2 separate regions of the Homo sapiens genome follow, and region 2 is linked to region 1. Evidence: fine-mapped expression QTL. A gene starts in region 1. The other region holds a variant in brackets. All regions are shown on one strand. Distances are between the middles of the regions. Region 1 holds the start of DNAJB11 (DnaJ heat shock protein family (Hsp40) member B11). Region 2 has its middle 5.9 kb from the start of LINC02020.

Region 1 (2,917 bases):
TTTGCTGGAGCATGGTTAGGAGTATAATAGGTTTACAAAGCATAAACGGCTTTGTAAACTAGCATGGAGTTGGGATTTTATTCTAAGTGCAAATGAAGAGCCATTCCAGGCTTTTAAACAGGGGAGTGACATGATTTGACTTTTATTTTTTATTTATTTATTTATTTATTTATTTTGAAACGGTGTGTCACTCTGTCGCCCAGGCTGGAGTGCAGTGGCAGGAACTCGGCTCACTGCAACCTCCACCTCCCAGGTTCAAGCAATTCTCCTGCCTCAGGCTCCCGAGCAGCTGGGGTTACAGGCGCTCGCCACCACACCTGGCTAATTTTTGTAGTTTTAGTAGAGACAGGGTTTCATCATGTTGGCCAGCCTGGTCTCAAGCTCCTGACCTCAGGTGCTCCGCCCGTCTCGGCCTCGCAAAGTGCTGATTACACTTTGGGTGGGTGAGCCACCGCGCCCGGGCTTTTTTTTTTTTTTTTTAAATCATGGAGTGAGGGACAGGGATGAGCAACATATATTAAGATATTAAGGAAGATATTAAGAGTGGGGGCAAGGAGGCCAGTTAGGAGGCCCTGGCCAGGTGAGAGATACACTGTGACCCAGAATCCTGGTAATGGAGATGTAGTGAACAGATTGAAGTATAGTTCAGAGGTAAAGAGTTGGATAGCTTATGCATGAAAGGAATAAAAACACCTAGAGCTTTGTCCTGATCAACTAGGTGTTGTGTAACTGCGATGAGCAAAATCGGGGGGAAGATGGGGAATCAAAGAGTTCTGCTTGAACCGTAATAATGGTTTTTACTCGTTGCCTGCTTACTATACGCCCGATGATTTACCGATTTTTTTCCCTGTTAAAATTCACAGAACTGCCAATAAGTGCTTTGCCTCAGTTTTGTTGATAAACTTAGGCTCAGACTTGGGAGGAGGGGAGGGGTGGGGGGTCTCACCACTAAGAAGCGGTGGAAGCCGAATCCGAACTTAAGTCGGTCTGTCATCACTGTAGCCTTTCCGAGACAGTTGTCTTATGGAGTTGCTTGGAGAACGTAAAATAAGAGGCCTAAGCAATGCGTCTGATGTACACCTGTCGTGGAATAACTGTTCCCGCTCATTCGGCCGCTGTACCTCTGCTCCCTCATTCGGAGCGTAGCTGGGTATGAATGAAATTCCGGGCTTGTAGCACAGAGAAAACTTCTCTCCCACAATTGGTTGGTGCTGGGGAGGAAGCTCCTGATTGGTGGAAAGTCCGAGGAAGTGGGCAAGCCGGAGGGATTTCGTGTACCTCAGGTGCCCTCACTCTGACCGGCCCCCTATCATTACGTAATTTTCTACGACTCGCGGTAGCTCAGGCAGAGCGGGTTCCTGCAGCGGCGCGACCCTCTGACGTCTCCGCTTCTAATTGGTCAAGAGCTGCGACTGCAGTTCTGAAGCCTAACTGGTTGCCCGTGCCGCCTCGGAGGTGAAGTGTACTGCGCTGATTGGCTTCCAGGCGCCGGCCGCGTGTGATGTCCCGGGCAACGATTGGCTCTCGCCTACCGGGGGCTTCTCTCACCGGGACTCGGGACTCCCGGGAAGTGGACCGGCAGAAGAGGGGGCTAGCTAGCTGTCTCTGCGGACCAAGGAGACCCCCGCGCCCCCCCGGTGTGAGGCGGCCTCACAGGGCCGGGTGGGCTGGCGAGCCGACGCGGCGGCGGAGGAGGCTGTGAGGAGTGTGTGGAACAGGACCCGGGACAGAGGAACCATGGCTCCGCAGAACCTGAGCACCTTTTGCCTGTTGCTGCTATACCTCATCGGGGCGGTGATTGCCGGGTGAGGAACAGACACTCGCAGACAACGGGGCCTGTGGGTCAGCCTTTGCTGGGGGGTGGGAGGGGGTGGGGGAAGTGGCATTGCCAGACTGACGGAGTGGAGAGGGGCATCGCTGTGGGTTGGCGGGGTGGCGGAGGAAGGGGTAGTATGGGCCAGGCTAGTGGGGTGAGAGGAGAACCGTGGGTGACACCAGTGAGAGGGCCTTAGGTCCAGAGAGGGTCTTAGGTAGAGCTAGATTTGCCCAGAGGAGTGGGAGTTGGATGCATTGCCAAACGGCATTTGGGGGATGAGGGAAAGAAGGTGGTTGCGAGCTGAAGCAGTGTCACGTAGAGCTGGGGAAGAAAGAGGGATGCCTGACTGTAAGGAAAGATAGTGACAGTGCCAGGCTGAGGTTGAGGGGATGGACGTTTGTTTGATCAAAGAGGTGAGTTGCTGTGCCCCGCTGAGGTGGAGAAGCGGACGATGCTCTATGCCAAGCCTTCGAAGAGCCATTCTGGGGCTGACATTAAAGTGGGTGGATGATGCCAGCCCGAGTTGGGACTGAACGAAATTGGATGCGGGATGGGAACAAGAAGATCTTTAGACAGCCCTTGTACTTCCCAGCTTCTTGAGCTATTTATTATCTTAAGTTGCTTCATCTTTAACATTCTGGCAGTGCTACTGTTAGGACATTTATGTGGCATAATCTTTTTAAAGAAGGAAAATCATCCTTTGAGAGTGTTATTTGACTTTTAGAAAAGTCAAAATCATTTGGAGCCAGTATAGGGAAAGGGGGGAAGAGTTAATTTGATTATATGGTTATTGCCTAAAGATAACATGAGACCATAAAATAAGGAAGTGGTTTTCTTGACCGAAGGTGGTTCTGAAAGAAAAGTGCCACAGATGTTTTGAATAATCCGAAAAGAAGTATATAGCCTCTTACTGTGATTACTTCAATATATAAGATTCATTACAAATTCTGGTGTTCTCTCTTTAGTCATTCTTTGTGTGTGTATGTGTCACATAAACCTTCATTTTTATACCTCTTTGCTCAGATACAAACCTAAATGTAGAGGAAAAATAAATCTTTTACTTTGAAAAATGTAACATGTAACTCTTTAATGAAGTATTCT
Region 2 (2,917 bases), 140 kb before region 1:
TCCTAAGTGCTTCAAATATTTTGAGACATTGTAAACAGTATTTTTAAATTTTAATTTCTATAATATAGAAATAAAGTAGATTTGTGTATATTAATTGTGTATTGTGCAACACTGTTAAACTCATGTATTAGTTATAGCAGCTGTTTGTAGATTGCATTCTTTCTACATGAATGATCATGTCGCCTGCAAATAAGAACAGTTTTATTTCTCCTTTTCCAATATGGATAACCTTATTTCTCTGTCTTGCCTGATGGCCCCAGATAAAACCTCCCATATGTTGTTGAATAGGGATGGGGAGAGCCAACATCCTTGTTTTGTTCCTGGTACTAGGGAAAAAGCATTTAATACGATGTTAGTTTTAGGTATTTTGTACACAGCCTCTATCAGGTGGAGGGAGTTCCTTTCTATTCCTAGTTTTCTAAGAGGTTTTTTTTTTAAAATCAGGAATGTGTTTAGATTTTGTCAAATGGCTTTTCTGCATCCATTGAGATGATCACACGTCGCTGTTGTTGTAATCTGTTACTATGGCAAATTACATTGTTGATTCTTGAGTGTTCAACCAACCCAGTACTATTCAACTTGCGTAAATCCCACTTGGTCATAATGTATTGTCCTTTTTATATATTGTTGGTTATTTGGTAAAATTTTGTTTCAAATTGTTGCATCAATTTTCATGAAGGATATTGGTCTATAGTTTTCTTACAGTGTCTTTGTCTAGTTTTGGTTTCAGGGCGATGCTGGCTTTAATGAGAATGAGTGGGGGACTATTTTCCTCTCCACAATATTGTAGAAGAATTAATGTAGAATTGGCATTATTTCTACATTAAATGTTTAGTACAGTCCTATCTTGAATGCTCTTCTATATATTCTGTGGGCTCTGAAACTTGGGGCAACACACGCCTGCTGGGGTTTTGCCTGTCTTTCTCTTTGAAGGCAGAATACTGTTTCCATCCTTCAGCCCTGGAAGGATAAAGGAAATGTGGAAATGGTTAAAGATGAGGGACAGGAGTGGGGGCATGATATCTCAATGCATCCTTTAAAAACAAAAGGTGAAATTCATGTAACATACAATTAACCGTTTTAAAGTGTTTCATTCAGTGGCATTTATTACATTCACAATGCTATACAACCACTACCACTAGCTAGTTGTAAACATTTTCATTATCCCAGAAGAAAATCTCATACTCGCTACGCAGCCACTCCCTATTCTCTCCTCCCGCTAGCTCCTGGCAACTCCTAATCTGCTTTCTGACTCTGTGGCTTTACCCATTCTGGATATTTCGTATCACTGGAATCACACAATATGTGACCTTTTGTGTC[T/A]GGCTTTTTTCACTTAGCATGATATTTTAAAATTTCACATATAGTGTAGCATGTATCAGTACTTCATTCCTTTCTATGGCTGAGTAATAATCCATGGTACTTAGATACCACGTTTTGCTTGTTCATTCATCACTTGATGAACATTTGCATTGTGTCCACCTTTTGGCTATCAAGAAGGGTGCTGCTATGAACACTCATGTGTAAGTATGTGTTTCAGCACCTGTTTGCAGCTCTTTGGGGTACACATCTAGGAGTGGAATTGCTGGATTGCATGGCAATTCTGTTTAGCTTTTTGAGGAATCACCAAATTGTCTTCCACAGTGGATGCACCATTTGATATTCCCATCAGTAATGTGTGAGGGTTCCAATTTCTCCATATTCTTGCCAACACATTTTTTAAATTAGAAATTTTTTTATTGTGACTATCCTAGTGGGTGTTTTTTTGTTGTTGTTTTTTGTTTTTTTTTTTAGGATAATAAGTCCTTTATTCTTTTCTTTTTCTTTCTTTTTTTTAAAATTTTTTTAGTATTTATTGATCATTCTTGGGTGTTTCTCGGAGAGGGGGATTTGGCAGGGTCATAGGACAATAGTGGAGGGAAGGTCAGCAGATAAACATGTGAACAAACGTCTCTGGTTTTCCTAGGCAGAGGACCCTGCCGCCTTCCGCAGTGTTTGTGTCCCTGGGTACTTGAGATTAGGGAGTGGTGCCTTCAAGCATCTGTTTAACAAAGCACATCTTGCACCACTCTTAATCCATTTAACCCTTAGTGGACACAGCACATGTTTCAGAGAGCACGGGGTTGGGGGTAAGGTTATAGATTAACAGCATCCCAAGGCAGAAGAATTTTTCTTAGTACAGAACAAAATGGAGTCTCCTATGTCTACTTCTTTCTACACAGACACAGTAACAATCTGATCTCTCCTTCTTTTCCCCACATTTCCCCCTTTTCTATTCGACAAAACCGCCATCGTCATCATGGCCCGTTCTCAATGAGCTGTTGGGTACACATCACAGACGGGGTGGCGGTGGGGCAGAGGCGCCCCCCACCTCCCAGACGGGGCGGCCGCCGGGCGGGGGCTGCCCCCTACCTCCCGGATGGGGCGGTTGCCGGGCGGAGGGGCTCCTCACTTCTCAGACGGGGCAGCCGGTCAGAGATGCTCCTCACCTCCCAGACGGGGTGGCGGCGGGGCAGAGACACTCCTCAGTTCCCAGACGGGGTTGCGGCCGGGCAGAGGCGCTCCTCACATCTCAGAAGGGGCAGCGGGGCAGAGGCGCTCCCCACATCCCAGACGATGGGCAGCCAGGCAGAGACGATCCTCACTTCCTAGACGGGATGGCGGCCGGGAAGAGGCGCTCCTCACTTCCCAGACTGGGCCGCCAGGCAGAGGGGCTCCTCACATCCCAGACGATGGGCGGCCAGGCAGAGACGCTCCTCACTTCCTAGACGGGCCGGCAGCCGGGCAGAGTCTGCAATCTCGGCACTTTGGGAGGCCAAGGCAGGCGGCTGGGAGGTGGAGGTTGTAGCGAGCTGAGATCACGCCACTGCACTCCAGCCTGGGCAGCATTGAGCACTGAGTGAGCAAGACTCCGTCTGCC

What was found.
Region 2: its variant is fine-mapped to the expression of DNAJB11 in tibial nerve (GTEx, PIP above 0.99). The same link has a PIP of 0.9 or more in sigmoid colon and sun-exposed skin.

What each region holds. Positions count from the first base shown.
Region 1 is chr3:186,569,161-186,572,077 of GRCh38, forward strand. DNAJB11 (DnaJ heat shock protein family (Hsp40) member B11) reads left to right here and starts at 1,560. Exons shown (of 10, transcript NM_016306.6): 1 at 1,560-1,805. The coding sequence starts at 1,738. It also overlaps a transcript of TBCCD1 not described here. RefSeq lists a silencer at 1,572-1,811.
Region 2 is chr3:186,433,027-186,435,943 of GRCh38, forward strand. No RefSeq gene overlaps it. Among named protein-coding and RNA genes, the nearest start is that of LINC02020, 5.9 kb to the right of the region's middle. The variant T/A (reference allele first, on the strand shown) is at 1,321.